Linked DNA regions of Homo sapiens: region 1 is linked to region 2. Evidence: fine-mapped expression QTL. Tissue or cell type: substantia nigra. Region 2 holds a variant in brackets; the other region holds the start of a gene. All regions are shown on one strand. Distances are between the middles of the regions.

Region 1 (8,228 bases), 530 kb before region 2:
TCATAGCCCCCAGGACTTCCTTATTCCTCAGGCTGTAGATAATGGGATTGAGCATGGGGGTAAGGATGGTGTAGAAGACTGCCAGGATCTTGTCTTCAGCTGGTGAGCGGAGATTCCTGGGCCGAAGATAGGTGTAGACAAAAGGTGCATAGTAAAAGATCACTACAGTTAAATGTGTTGAAATGGTGGTGAAGGCCTTTTTTCTCCCCTCCTTTGAGTGCATATGATAGACAGCAAATAGGACTCGGCCACAGGAAGAAGTGATGCCAATGAAAGGGAAAAGGAGAAAGAGGCTTGTACTTACAAAAACCATATATTCATAGACCCAAGTATCTGTACAGGCAAGAAGCAACATGGCTGGGACATCGCAGAAGAAATGGTCAATAGCCCTAGACCTGCAGTAGGGAATATGAAGGGCAAAGACTGTGTGTGCCAAGGAGTTGATGGACCCCAGTGTCCAAGAGCCTCCAATCATCTTCACACACATCATTTTACTCATGCGGATAGGATAATAGAGAGAGTGGCAGATGGCCAAATAACGGTCGTAGGCCATGGAGGTCAGGAGTAAGCCTTCAGAACACGCCATGGTCAGGAAGAAGAAGCTTTGCACACCACATCCCAGGAAGGAGATGCCTTTCTGGCCGGACAGGAAGTTGTACGCCATCTTGGGGACGGTGGTGGAGATGTACATCAGGTCCATAAGGGAGAGCTGGCTGAGAAGAAAGTACATCGGTGTGTGGAGACGAGGATCCACGTGGATGAGGTGAATCATGGCCGAGTTACCCACCGAGGCCAGAAAGAATATGAGGATGATAAGGCACAAGAGAAATATTCCAGTTTGATTTGGGGGAAGCAGACCCAACAAAATGAAATCATTTGAAGTGTGATTCCATTTCTCCATGAAAACTTTCTGCTGTAACTGTTGAAAGAGAAATAGAAACAAAAGCAAAGCACAAAACATGAAATAAAACACAATAGAAAAACAAAAAGGAACTGACTTTATCAATGTTTGTTTAGAATGAGTTGTTTCTCCACTAACACTGCAGGTTTTTTTTAATCAATTTCTATATCTGAAGCATATGGAGATTAGAGAGGATATTCACTTTCTGTTCTTATAGTTTGATTTTCATTACTGTAGATGACAGCAGAGTCAAGCAGCTACAAATCTATTCAACTGGAAAAGCCAGTGTGAGCAGTAGAACAATTGTAATTTATGGCTTAAGCATGTCTTCCAATTTAATTAGATAGAACAACACAATTAAATGTTAATAATTGAGAATAAAGAAATCAAGCAAACAAAAATAAATAATTTTCCCTCCCTGGAAAGTTTGTCTAGCTTTTTATGCCTAGGCTTTTCCTTGGGAATTTTTATTTATGACTTTTAGAATCTCTCTTTTTCTCTTTACACCACCCCAAATCTGGCAGTTTGTTTTTTTCTTCATGCAGTTTCCCAGGTATTCGTAAACTATATTTCTAACATCTGTGTGACTTCTTCCTTTACCTGGGCTTGGAGTGAGAGGTCATGTTTTGTGTGTGCTCTTCTGTCTGAGGCAGACACTGATGTCTCATCCTGCCCAGCATATTGATTTGGTTAGTCATCTTGGGTTACTGATTTTTCAACTTTTGCTGTTCAAAAGCAAATCATAGTTTGTTGCAATTATTCACATTTAGGAACTTAAACTCAACTGTTAGTTCATATAACCTTGGGTAGCATGAATACAATTGTGAAAGAGAGCCTGCCACAGGAAAAAAAATGGAAATTCATTTCTATAGCTGTCTAAGGAATAAACACTAACAATGAAAAGTTGGGAACATGACAGGTGCACAGTAGCATTGGACTTGGATGCCAAATGGGATCACAGGCACTCTCTGCTTCTTATAGTGCTTTAGAAATAAAAACTGATCAGAAAAAAACATGAAAACCATCATTATGATACATTCATTTCCTCAAATAGTGTTCACTGAATTTATGTTTTATGACAGTGCTGCTAGCTACTGATGTGCTTTGGTGATGAAACACAAAGGATTTTAGAATATGTAATTAAAATTGAGATAATTATACAAACAATAGACCAACAAACTCAAACATACAGTGATGTTATGTAGTGATTACGATTCTATAGAAAAATAAAAAAGCAGAGAGATCATTGGATTAAACAAAGGAATTCAAAAAGTATTCCAAACGACTTTTCTAATTTCCAGGGTATGTATGATAAAGATTGATTTTGTAACTCATGTGGCTTCATTCTATCAGTAAGAACTATCCTAGTAATTTAGTTCCAAGCAAATATTTGATTAATTTTATCAGATTAACATGTTGACAGCCTTTGATGCAGTAGTCACTGAGTGAGGCAGTGGGGATAGAATGATTCATCAGGTGCTGTCCCATCCCCAAGTGGGCGACCAACTGTCCTGATGTGCCCAGGCCTTAGGGGATGCCCAACATGTCCTGGAAATTGGAAAAGCCTTTTGTAGTGCTTTCTGAATTCCTTTGTTTAATCCAGGTTTAAATCCAGGGGAAGAAAGCTGCCAGCATGATCCCATGAGGTGTATCCAATACCGAGCCCTGAACAAGCTGACTTGGGTGTAGGTTTATGTGTTCCATCCTGGAGTTGTTTTGAAGAGAGACATTTTGATTCTTTGTTGCATAGACTATAGCTCAGAGTATTATAAAGATTGTTTTATGGCAGTTACTACAATAATGATTTTGTTTCCAAAAATGGAAAAGTGGCATGTTGTTAGGCAATGGAAGAGAATAGTTACTTTTAGGATCCTGTGAATCTGGGACTTGGAGATTTTAGGTCATGGGATATTGGAGTTTGAGTTTAGGATCTATTTCCATTGATGTCCAGCAGCTTTCCTTGTTAGACATGGGACCTTATTTCATGCACCAGAATTACATGAAGCATCATTCTGTCGGTTACCTTATAGCTGGGAAAATGTTGTTCCTGTGGCTATCAGGTGAGTGTGAGATTAGTGACTGCCTTGGCCATCCTTGTTGACTTAAAGAACGACACTAAGGCAAAATTAATACAGAAAGTTTATTTGGGCCAAGGTTGAGGGCTGCAGCCCAGAAACACTTCTGTGGCAAGTAACCTGGAGAACAAGAAGAGACCCAAGTTTTTAAGGTAAAGAAAGGGAGGAATCAGGAGTGGAGACAAATTCTAAAGTTATTTATCAGCAAGTCTCACTGGTTTCAGAAACAACATTGATCAGTGATTGGTTATGCATTATTTAACTATAGGATATGTGGTTTAGGGGATTGATAGGTTAATTCATGGTTAGTTGCCACAAGTCAGTCCAGAGCCCCCATAGCACGTAGATTCAAGAGATGATTACCTAGCTCAAGAAAGAGTGAGATGTGACTGCGGCCACATTTCAATCTTGCTGGGCCTGATAATTTAAAGGGGGCTACTTATTCCTCAGATAAAAAGTTTATTTTCTTTCTCATTCTAAAAGATACGTTGCTGAAATTTATAGAGTTAAAAAACACCTCATTTCACAGAAACTAACAATGTAAGTGTAGCAAGTGTAGGGTCCTGAATTTATTTTGCAAAATTACAATTAGTGAATGCTTCTTAAAACTCTTTTAAACAATCAGCAGGAGACCAATAGCAAATAGTCATAGACTCAGCTCCCTCAATCTCAACAACGTATAGGACAACTATAAAGAGAATTCACAGTTCTGTGTGTTCAGCACATAGTAGGTCCTTAGTAATTGTCACTGTCCTTTGCCCATTCCCTGTGTTAACCATGGAGAGCCCTCACGCCCTGAGAAAATGTTTTTATTAATGTCACATTGTTTGAGAGCTGCACATAGTGCAACTCTAACAAGTTCATGTTACCTTTTTTTACATTTTTAGTTCACTCTTGGTTTTCATTTTTTTTTTTTTTGAGACAGAGTCTCACTGTGTCGCCCAGGCTGGAGTGCAGTGGCCTGATCTTGGCTCACTGCAAGCTCCGCCTCCCGGGTTCACGCCCTTCTCCTGCCTCAGCCTCCCCAGTAGCTGGGACTACAGGCGCCCACCACCACGCCCGGCTAATTTTTATTTTTGTATTTTCAGTAGAGACCGGGTTTCACTGTGTTAGCCAGGATGGTCTCGATCTCCTGACCTCGTGATCTGCCCACCTCGGCCTCCCAAAGTGCTGGGATTACAGGCATGAGCCACCTGGGTGCCCAGCCTTCTTTTTCAATTTGTTATGGAACTGTCTATTCCCTGTGCAGCAGAGAGTTTCCTGATGATAGGAAAACATTTCCAAAAAAGCTTTCTAGGATAAAGCCGACCCAAATCAACTCAATTCAGTTATATTACTATGACTCACTTTGCCCGAAGTTCTTCAGTTTATATAGTGGTATAAAAAGCAGTTTTATGGCCAGGCGCAGTGGCTCAGGTCTGTAAGCCCAGCACTTTGGGAGGCCAAGGCGGGCGGATCACGAGGTCAGGAGTTCGGGACCAGCCTGACCAATATGGTGACACCCCATCTCTACTAAAAACACAAAAATTAGCCAGGCGTGGTGGCATGCGCCTGTGATCCCATCCACTCGGGAGGCTGAGGCAGAAGAATCACTTGAACCTGGGAGGCAGAAGTTGCAGTGAGCTGAGATCGTGACCCTGCACTCCAGCCTGGGTGACATAGTGAGACTCCATCTCAAAAAAAAAAAAAAAAAGCAGCAGCTTTACAGTGACATCATAATCTGCAAACATTCCATATAATTATTTAAAACATGTAAGCATCAAACTATGTTCTGATAGTATATCAGGCTATCAATAACATTATATCACTGATCAATAGGCTCTGCATTAAACCAAAACTCTTTCTGAAGTGAGAATCTCTTCTTTATCTGCCAAAATTCATGAGGAAGAAACACCAGGTAACACTTTATAATATTCATTCCTTACAGCTCCCACAGCTAGTCATTGTCTTTATGGTGAAATCAGAAAACAACTTCACCAGCTCTTGTGAAATATTATCCTGTTTGCATATGCAGTGTTTAGATAAAGTCTCTTCCTTTCCTCTTACCTTGTTTCAGTGAGAACAGAATAAGGCATTTTACACTGAAGTCTCTCAGGTTCCACCATTGGAAGACAGAAGGATGAATGGCTATATTTTACACACAGAACCTTAAGTCACCAACCCTTAGATATTCCTCTTTCTCCTCTAATTGATCTCCAGTGTCCAAGTCCACGGGGGCCAAAACCTTGGTCACTTCACTTGACTTTGCTGATTTGGGGATGAACTCAAATTCTGAACTTAAAGCAAATCAACCAACCCAATCAACTTTGCTGCATTCAGCTGCTACCCAGAATCAGACTAAAGAGGGGTGTATTTAATATTCCAGTACATGATTTCAGAGCTATAGAAGATGTTAAATTATGTTTATGGAAATTCTGTCATCATGTAAGTTAGAGAATTCCGGATTAAAAAAGTGCAGGAACCACTTACAAGTACTCGACTCAGTAATAGCAGAACTAGTCCCAAGGATAGTTTCCTGTCCACTCTTTAGTGAGTTTCCAGGGGGAATGATTGATGATTGTGACTAAATTAAATTATACTAGGATAAAACACTTCCTTCTACTTGTTAGGTGGGGGTAGATAATTGATACATGACAATATATATCCATTTAGCTATTCTACTAAAGTGAAAGCTGACTCTTAGAGACAATGTGATAAAATGAGCATTTAGAGTCAGAGAGAATACTCTAGTCTGACAGCTATGCCACTAATTAGGAAGCTGAGTTGGGAAAATTACTTAAGATTTCAGCCTGTTACTAATCTTTACAACTGGACTAATTTGAGGGACATTCTAATAATTAAATAGAATGATGTATGCCAAATGTTTACATAGTGTCTGTTGCAGAGGAAGGGCTCAATCAACTGTAGCATCTCTTAACCTCTTTAATCCATACATTGGTTAACTAGAAAAGAACACTTTATTTGGGGTTATATTGTTCTTTTTTTATCTTTGAAGGCACTAACTGCTATATTTTATGTCAGAAATTAGAAATAATGCTATAAAATTAATATCCATGTTCTTTGTTTTTTTCCTTTAATTTTTTAGAATTATTATGATTATCTAATGGTTGCATATATTCATGAGGTACATGTGATGTTTCAATACAGGCATTCAATGTGTAATGAGCAAATAAGGGTATTTGGGGTACCTATTACCTCAAGCATTTATTAATTTTTTCTGTTAGAAATGTTCCAATTCCACTTTTAGTTATTTTGAAATATACAATAAATTATTGTTAACTATAGTCATCCTGTTGTGCTACTACATTCTAAGTCTTATTCATCCTAACTGTATTTTTGAGCCCATTAATCATCTCCAGTTTATTCCCCACTCTACTCTACTCTGCCGAGCCTCTGGTAACAGTCATTCTACTATATTTATTATTTTTTAATTTTAGCTCCCACATATGAGCAAGAATGCTCAAAGTTTGTCTTTCTGTGCCTGGCTTATTTCATGTAATATAATGGATAATGAAAATTTACTAGATACATAGAACACTATTCAACCATAAAAAAAAATAAGAGTGAATTCCTTTCATTTGCAACAACATGGATGGAACCGGAACTAAAGTAATGCTGGATTCTTGAATTATCTTGGCACCCTTTGTCCTAGGAGATGATGAGATGAGACTCAATAAATACTGGATGCAAATACGATGAAGTACGAAACTGGACAAAGCCATTCTAGTGCTTTAAATAAGAAGAGTGGACCAGTTATGATCACATACAGATTTTTTATTGCTCTTGTTAGTCTTTGGTAACTTCTATGTTTTTCCCTGCTGCAATGTGGTGCTGCTTGCATTTAACTCAGTGCAAAACTCAAACCCAGGTAAAACTCATTCTCAGCCTGTTACCGTCCCTGTAAGATCCATACACAGCAATGAAACGTGACTTGAGGAAAGTCCAATATATGATGATGCATCTCACCTCAAATTTATGACAATACATCTCAGATTTATGAATACAAATCTCATGGCCCTTTTGCCACGTCACAGTATGTTCTTGTTCTCTGCAGACTTTCTCTGAAAAGTAGTGATCCATGCCTCCTCCTGCTTTCCCCAAACCTTACCCCACTTCCACATCTCTTAGACTCCTCTGGGAAAAATAAACAAACCTGTTAATAAAACAATCAGATTTCAAACTTTTCTTCCATGAACTGTATCAGCCTCCCTCATTCTGTACCATATACTCAGCCTTGTTTCCTGTGACAGCGTATGAAATGACCGTGCTCCTGCCTAAACCCACTCTCTACTTTTGCACAAGGCTCAGCCCCTCTCAGCATCTCCTTTTTACATTTCCATTTCCATCTTCATCTGCACAGAAACATAAATTCTTTAGAGGAAAATATGGCTGTCAAAGATTCAATCATACTCCTTGGAGGCTCTGACCAAAGATTGAGCATCTTTTTCTTTCTGCAGAGATGGAAGTTACTCATTAACAAGTTGGAGCGGTGATGGATATTATAGACAAGGGGTTTCAGTAGGTGCGATCAATTAAAAAAAATCCAGGATGTAATGAATTACTCTGTGATGGTGTCTCCATGAAGCCTGGGAGCTTATAATGAGTTTAGAGATTCTTTACAATTTCTTAGTGACAATAAAGTTTTGGTTTAACCAGTGTAACCCTTCTAAGAAGACTGTGAGGCAGGTATAATTTGTGAAAGTCTGTTTTATAGACCAGAATGTGGTGTACTTTGATGAGTGTGTATTCTAATGTTGTTGAATGGAGTAGTCCACAGATGTGAAATAGATCCAGTTGGTTGATGGTGCTGTTCAGTTATATTCTTACTGTTTTCCTGCCTCTGGATGTATCAGTTACTAACAGAGGGGTGCTGAATATCCAACTTTAATTGCAGATTTATGTATTTCTCTTTTGTTGTCCTATATGTTTTTGCCTCATCTATTTTGACATTATGTTGTTAGGTACATACACATTAAGTATTAATATGTATTATGTAGGAAGTCTTAGCCAGAGCAATTAGGCAAGAGTGAAAAATGAAAAGCATTTAAACAGGAAGGAAGGAAGTCAACATATCTCTCTTTATAGATGATACCATTCTATATCTGGAAAACCCCATAGTCTCTGTCCAAAAGCTCCCTGATTTGATAAATAACTTCAGCAAAGTTTCAGCATACAAAATCAATGTACAAAAGTCAGTGTCATTTCTATACACCAATAGCAGCCAAGGTAAGAGCCAAATCAGGAGCTCAATC
Region 2 (8,228 bases):
CCATGTTCAAGGATAGGAAGAAGCAATATCATAAAAATGGAAATACTGCCCAAAGTAATTTATAGATTCAATGCTATTTCCATCAAGCTCCCCGACTTTCTTCGCAGAACTAGAAAAAACTACTTTAAATTCCATATGGAACCAAAAAAGAGCCTGTTTAGCCAAGACAATCCTAAGCAAAAAGAACAAAGCTGAATAGGAACAGCTCCAGTCTGCAGCTCCCAGCAAGACCAATAGAGAAGGCGGGTGATTTCTGCATTTCCAACTGAGGTACCCAGTTCATCTCATTGGGACTGGTTAGACAGTGAGTGTAGCCCACAGAGGGTGAACAGAAGCAGGGTGGGGCATCACCTCACACAGGAAGTGCAAGGGATTGGGGAACTCCCTCCCTTAGCCAAGGGAAGCCATGAAGGACCATACCTTGAGGGACAGTGCTATCCAGCCCAGACACTACACTTTTCCCACGGTCTTTGCAACCCACAGACCAGGAGATTCCTTTGGGTGCCTACACCACAAGGGCCCTGGGTTTCAAGCATAAAACTGGGTTTCAAGCACAAAACTGAGTGGCCATTTGAGCAGACACCAAGCTAGCTGCAGGAGTTTTTTTCATACCTCAGTGGTGCCTGGAACACCAATGAGAAAGAACTGTTTACTCCCCTGGAAAAGGGGCTGAAGCCAGGGAGCCAAGTGGTCTTGCTCAGTGGGTCCCACCACCATGGAGCCCAGCAAGCTAAGATCCTCTGGCTTGAAATTCTTGCTGCCAGCACAGCAGTCTGAAGTCGACCTGGGACATTCGAGCTTGGTGGGGGAAGGGGCATCTGCCATTACTGAGGCTTGAGTAGGCAGTTTTCCCCTCACAGTGTAAACAAAGCCGCAGGGGAATTTGGGCTGGACTGAGCCCACTCCAACACCACAAAGCCACTGTGGCCAGACTGCCTCTCTATATTTCTCCTCTCTGTGCAGGGCATCTCTGAAAGAAAGGCAGCAGCCCCAGTCAGGGGCTTACAGAAGGAAAGGCTGTGGGTGCAGCTTCAACGGACTTAAACATTCCTGCCTACCTGTTGGCTCTGAAGAGAGCAGCAGATCTCCCAGCACAGTGCTCAAGCACTGCTAAGGGAAAGATGGCCTCCTCAAGTGGGTCGCTGACCCTCATGCCTCCTGACAAGGAAACACCTCCCAACAGGGATCGACAGACACCTCATACAAGAGAGCTCCAGCTGGCATCTGGCAGGTGCCCTGCTGGGACAAAGCTTCCAGAGGAAGGAGTAGGCAGCAATCTTTGCTGTTCTGCAGTCTCCACTGGTAATACACATGCAAACAGAATCTGGAGTGGATCCCCAGCAAACTCCAGCAGACCTGCAGAATACGGGCCTGGTTGTTAGAAGGAAAACTAACAAACAGAAAGCAATAGCGTCAACATCAACAAAAAGGACAACCACGCAAAAACTCCATACAAAGGTCACCAAGAGCAAAGACCAAAGGTAGATAAATCCACAAAGATGAAGAAAAAGCAGCTCAAAAAGGCTGAAAATTCCAAATACCAGAATGCCTCTTCTCCTCCAAAAGATCACAACTCCTCGCCAGCAAGGGAACAAAACTGGACGGAAAATGAGTATGTCAAATTGACAGAGGTGGGCTTCAGAAGGTGGGTAATAAACTCTTCCGATCTAAAGGAGCATGTTCCAAGCCAATGCAAGGAAGCTAAGAACCTTGAAAAAAGGTTACAGGAATTGCTAACTAGAATAACTAGATTAGAGAAAAACATAAATGACCTGATGGAGCTGAAAAACATAGCACGAAAACTTCGTGAAGCATACACAAGTATCAATAGCCAAATTGATCGGGCAGAAGAAAGGATGTCAGACATAGAAGATCAACTTAATGAAATAAAGCATGAAGACAATGTTAGAGAAAAAAAAATGAAAAGGAACAAACAAAGCCTCCAAGAAATATGGGACTATGTGAACAAAGATCAAACCTACATTTGATTGGTGTACCTGAAAGTGACGGGGAGAATGGAATCAAGTTGGAAAACACACTTCAGGATATTATCCAGGAGAATTTCCCCAACCTGGCAAGACAGGCCAACATTGTAATTCAGAAAGTACAGAGAACATCACAAAGATACTCCTGAGAAGAGCAACCCCAAGACACATAATCATCAGATTCACCGACGTTGAAATGAAGGAAAAAATGTTAAGGACAACCAGAAAGAAAGGTTGGGTTACCCACAAAGGGAAGCCCATCAGACTAATGGCGGATCTCTCTGCAGAAACCCTACAAGCCAGAAGAGAGTGGGGGCCAATATTCAACATTCTTAAAGACAAGAATTTTCAACCCAGAATTTCATATCTAGCTAAACTAAGCTTCATAAGTGAAGGAGAAATAAAATCCTTTACAGAGAAGGAAATACTGAGGGATTTTGTCACCATGAGGCCTGCCTTACAAGAACTCCTGAAGGAAGCACTAAATATACAAAGGAAAAACCAGTACCACCCACTGCAAAAACAAACCAAAATGTAAAGTCCATTGACACTATGAAGAAACTGCTCAACTAATGAGCAAAATAACCAGCTAGCATCATAAGGACAGGATCAAATTCACACATAACAATATTAAACTTAAATGTAAATGGGCTAAATGGCCCAATTAAAAGACACAGACTGGCAAATTGGATAAAGATTCAAGATCCATCAGTGTGCTGTATTCAGGAGACCCATCTCACATGCAGAGACACACATACACTCAAAATAAAGGGATGGAGGAAGATTTACGAAGCAAATGGAAAGCAAAAAAGAGCAGGTGGTGCAATCTGATAAAACAGACTTTAAACCAACAAAGATCAAAAGAGACAAAGAAGGCCATTACATAACGGTAAAGGGATTAATGCAACAAGAAGAGCTAACTATCCTAAATATATATGCACCGAATACAGGAGCACCCAGATTCATAAAGCAAGTCTTTAGAGACCTAAAAAGAGACTCAGACTCCAACACAACAATAGTGGGAGATTTTAACACCCCACTGTCAATATTAGACAGATCAACGAGACAGAAGATTAACAAGGATATTCAGGACTTGAACTCAGCTCTGGACCAAGTGGACCAAATAAACATCTACAGATCTCTCCACCCCAAATCAACAAAATATATATTCTTCTCAGCACGAAATAGCACTTATCCTAAAATCAACCACATATTTGGAAGTAAAACACTCCTCAGCAAATGCAAAAGAACAGAAATCATAACAAAAAGTCTCTCAGACCACAGTGCAAATCAAATTAGAACTCAGGATTAAGAAACTCACTCAAAACCGCAAAACTACATGGAAACTGAACAACCTGCTCCTGAATGACTACTGGGTAAATAATAAAATGTAGGCAGAAATAAAGATGTTCTTTGAAACCAATGAGAACAAAGACACAACAAACCAGAACCTCTGGGACACAGCTAAAGCAGTGTTTAGAGGGAAATTTATAGCACTAAATGCAAACAGAAGAAAGCGGGAAAGATCTAAAATCAATACCCTAACATCACAATTTAAAAAACTAGAGAAGCAACAGCAAACAAATTCAAAAGCTAGCAGAAGACAAGAAATAACTAAGATCAGAGCAGAACTGAAGGAGATAGAGACATGAAAAACCCTTCAAAAAATCAATAAATCCAGGAGCTGGTTTTTTTGAAAAGATTAACAAAACAGATAGACCACTAGCCAGACTAATAATGAAGAAAGACAGAAGAATCAAATAGACACACTAAAAAATAATAGAGGGGAGACTACCACTGATTCCACAGAAATACAAACTACCATCAGAGAATACTATAAACATTTCTACACAAATAAACTAGAAAATCTAGAAGAAATGGATAAATTCCTGGACACACACACCTTCCAAGACTAAACCAGGAAGAAGTTGAATCCCTGAATGGACCAATAACAAGTTCTGAAACTGAAGCAGTAATTAATTAGCCTACCAACCAAAAAAAGCCCATGACTAGATGGATTCACAGCTGAATTCTACCAGAGATACAAAGAGGAGCTGGTACCATTCCTTCTCAAACTATTCCAAACAATAGAAGAATAGGGACTCCTCCCTAACTCATTTTATGAGGCCAGCATCACCCTGATATGAAAACTTGCCAGAGACAAAACAAAAATAGAAAATTTCAGGCCAATATCCCTGATGAACATCAATGCGAACATCCTCAATAAAACACTGGAAAACCAAATCCAGCAGCACATTAAAAAGCATATCCACCACGATCAAGTCGGCTCCATCCCTGGGATGCAAGACTGGTTCAACATACACAAATCAATAAACGTAATCTATTAAACAGAAAGAACCAATGACAAAAACCACATGAATATCTCAATAGATGCAGAAAAGGCCTTCGATAAAATTTAACACCCCTTCATGCTAAGAACACTCAATAAACTAGGTACTGATCAAACCTATCTCAAAATAATAAGAGCTATTTATGGCAAACCTACAGTCAACATCATACTGAATGGGCAAAAGTTGGAAGCATTCCCTTTGAAAACCAGCACAAGAAAAGTATGCCCTCTCTCTCCACTCCTATTCAACATAGTATTGGGAGTTCTGACCAGGGCAATCAGGCAAGAGAAAGAAATAAAGGGTATTCAAATAGGAAGAGAAAAAGTCACATTGTCTCTGTTTGCAGATGACGTGATTGTATGTTTAGAAAATCACATCGTCTCAGCCCAAAAACTCCTTAACCTAATAAGCAACTTCAGCAAAGTCTCAGGATACAAAATCAATGTGCAAAATTCACAAGCATTCCTCTACACCAATAACAGACAAA[G/A]AGAGCCAAATCATGAGTGGACTCCCATTCACAATTGCAAATTGTGTTTTATTCTCTTTGTATTCACAATACAAAGAGAATAAAATACCTAGGAATACAACTTACAAGGGACGTAAAGCACCTCTTCAAGGAAACTAAAAACCACTGCTCAAGGAAATAAAAGAGGACACAAACAAATGGAAAAACACTCCATGCTCATGGATAGGAAGAATCAATATTGTGAAAATGGCCATACTGCCCAAAGTAATTTATAGATTCAATGCTATTCCCATCAAGCTACCATTGTCTTTCTTCACATAATTAGAAAAAAAGCTTCTTTAAATTTCATATGGAAACAAAAAAGTGCCCATATAGCCAAGACAATCCTAAGCAAAAAGAACAAAGCTGGAGGCATCACGCTACCTGACTTCAAACTATACTACAAGGCTACAGTAACCAAAACAGCATGGTACTGCTACCAAAACAGATATATAGACCAATGGAACAGAACAGAGGCCTCAGAAATGACACCACACAGCTACAACCATCTGATCTTTGACAAACCTGAGAAAAGCAAGCAATGGGGAAATGATTCACTATTTAATAAATGATGTTAGGAAAACTGGCTAGCCATATGCAGAAAACTGAAACTGGACCCCTTCCTTACACCTTATACAAAAATTAACTCAAGTTGGATTAAAGATTTAAATGTAGGACCTAAAACCATAAAAACCCTAGAAGAAAACTTGGGCAATACCATTCAGGACATAGGCATGGGCAAAGACTTCTTGACTAAAACACCAAAAGCAATTGCAACAGAAGCCAAAATTGACAAATGGGATCAAATTAAACTAAAGGGCTTCTGCATGGCAAAAGGAACTATCATCAGAGTGAACAGGCAATCTACAGAATGGGAGAAAAATTTTGCAATCTATCCATCTGACAAAGAGCTAATATCCAGAATCTACAAAGAACTTAAACAAATTTACAAGAAAAAAACAACCCCATCAAAAAGTGGGTGAAGGATATGAACAGACACTTCTCAAAAGAAGACATTTATGCAGCCAAAAAACATAAGAAAAAAAAGCTAATCATCACCAGTCATTAGAGAAATGAAAATCAAAACCACAATGAGATACCATCTCATGCCAGTTAGAATGGTGATCATTAAAAATCAGGAAACAACAGATGCTGGAGAGGATGTGGAGAAATAGGAACGCTTTTACACTGTTGGTGGGAGTATAAACTAGTTCAACCATTGAGGAAGACAGTGTGGCAATTCCTCAAGGATCTAGAACTAGAAATACCACTTGACCCAGCAATCCCATTACTGGGTATATACCCAAAGGATTATAAATCGTTCTACTATAAAGACACATGCACTTGCATTTTTATTGCAGCACTATTCACAATAGCAAAGACTTGGAACCAACTCAACTGCCCATCAATGTTAGACTGGATAAAGAAAATGTGCCACAAATACATCATGGAATACTATGCAGCCATAAAAAAGAATAAGTTTATGGTCTTTGCAGGGACATGGATGAAGCTGGAAACCATCATTCTCAGCAAACTAACACAGGAACAGAAAACCACACACTGCATGTTCCCACTCATAAGTGGAAGTTGAACAATGAGAACACATGGGCACAGGGAGGGGAACATCACACACCCGGGCCTGTTGGGGTGTGGGGGGCAAGGGGAGGGAGAGCATTAGAACAAATACCTAATGCATGGGGGGTTTAAACCCTAGATGAAGGGCTGATAGGTTCAGCAAAGCACCGTGGCACATGTATTCCTATGTAACAGACCTGCCCATTCAGCACATGTATCCCAGAACTTAAAGTAAAAATAAATAAATAAATAAATAATAAAATATATATAATGTAAGAAATGTTTCTAGAAAAAAAAAAGCCCTTGCTCCAAGCCCTGGTGTCTTAGAGACCTCATTATAGCAGCATAAACTGCACTCCAAGCTTCTACTAATTGTGCTTTAATTTTACTTGAATAATAAAAGAGAAAAGAAGGATGCTATTATGCCTCTAACTATCCAGGGAAAAGCACTTCTATACTTTCGTTCACACACACTGAGATGCAATGTTTGCAACAATCAGACCTCAGTAAGTAATGAATAAGTAATTATTCATTATAATTTTTATAAGATAAAATACTAAGAAAAAATTGAGTTTATGCACATTTTCAATTGCATAGACAGTGAAGGAAAGAAAAAATAAAAACATTAATATATACTAATTAAATCAACAAAATTTTTATGAGGTAGTATCAAAAGGAATAAACTTTTTTCCATATGTTATAGTTTCCACCATACTTGTCAATGCAAATGCTAATTCCTGGATATAAGGATTGAAAGGGAATGTGGAAAGCTAAAAATAATTAATGTTTTATGGTGGTCAGTTTTTAAGTATAAATTTACTTAATTTCATCTGTTTTTGTTATAATAGCTTTGAAAATTAAAATAATAGGCTGGACACAGTGACTAATGCCTGTTACCCCTGCACTTTGGGAGGCTGAGGCCAGTGGATTCACTTGAGGCCAGGAGTTCGAGACTAGCCTGGCCAACATAGTGAAACCCTGTCTCTACTAAAAATAAAAAATTAGCCAGGTGTGGTGGTGCACACCTGTAAAGCCAGCTACCTGGGAGGCTGAGGCACCAGAATCACTTGAACCCAGGAGGTGGAGGTTGCAGTGAGCCGAGATCGTGCCACTGCACCCCAGCCTGGATGACAGAGTGTGACTCTGTCTCAAAAAATAAATAAATAAATAAAATTAGACTTCAGCAGAATTGAGGCCAAAACGGTAAGAACTTGCTACTCATCTCGATCAGTTGAAATACTTTTTGGTTTTTTATTTCCTTTCATTTCTGCATTACAATTGCCATATAAATTATTTAAAATATGAATGATTTCTAAAAGTACATTTAGAAATTACAAATAAAGGAAGACAGATGCTACTCTTGAATAAATCATCTGTATTTTGGCATTTATCAGACAAACATAATAAAAGTTTGTGTTTTTCTTTTGTCTTGCTTTTTGTTTTCTACTTACCTGATTAGAAGTGGATGAAACTTCTTGGCCTGGAGAATTAAAAAAAAAAAAAAAAGAAAGAAAGGAAAGCACTGTGAGACTTTTGCCCCATCACAGATTGAAGGAAAAGGTGAAAAAAACAGAATGTAGAAGTCATAAAACTGCAGAGGCCTATTATCTAAACATCTGACATGACATTGCCCCATCTTATAACTGAAGTTCTCAAGACTGAGTGAAAAAATCAAGAAAGAACATGTGTTCTGAGATAGCATCAATAGTATGTTCTTTCTGTAAATAAAGCACATTAATGTACTGAATAAGATGGATTTCAAAATTTGGTAATAAAATGTTCATAAATGTGCTATGTCAATGCAATATGATA

What was found. PIP is the estimated chance that this variant, and not a neighbour inherited with it, causes the effect.
Region 1: it holds the start of OR2L13, and the variant in region 2 is fine-mapped to the expression of OR2L13 in substantia nigra (GTEx, PIP above 0.99).

The regions. Positions count from the first base shown.
Region 1 is chr1:248,092,049-248,100,276 of GRCh38, reverse strand. OR2L13 (olfactory receptor family 2 subfamily L member 13) reads right to left here and starts at 5,093. Exons shown (of 3, transcript NM_001395936.1): 1 at 5,023-5,093; 2 at 1,502-1,626; 3 at 1-919. The coding sequence starts at 901. It overlaps LOC105373275 (a long non-coding RNA gene), which reads left to right and starts at 4,735. Exons shown (of 4, transcript XR_949369.3): 1 at 4,735-4,873.
Region 2 is chr1:247,565,599-247,573,826 of GRCh38, reverse strand. It overlaps GCSAML (germinal center associated signaling and motility like), which reads right to left. Exons shown (of 5, transcript NM_145278.5): 4 at 7,868-7,896. LOC102724446 (a long non-coding RNA gene) reads left to right here. Exons shown (of 3, transcript NR_188589.1): 3 at 7,876-8,188. Among named protein-coding and RNA genes, the nearest start is that of OR2G2, 19 kb to the left of the region's middle. The variant G/A (reference allele first, on the strand shown) is at 4,824.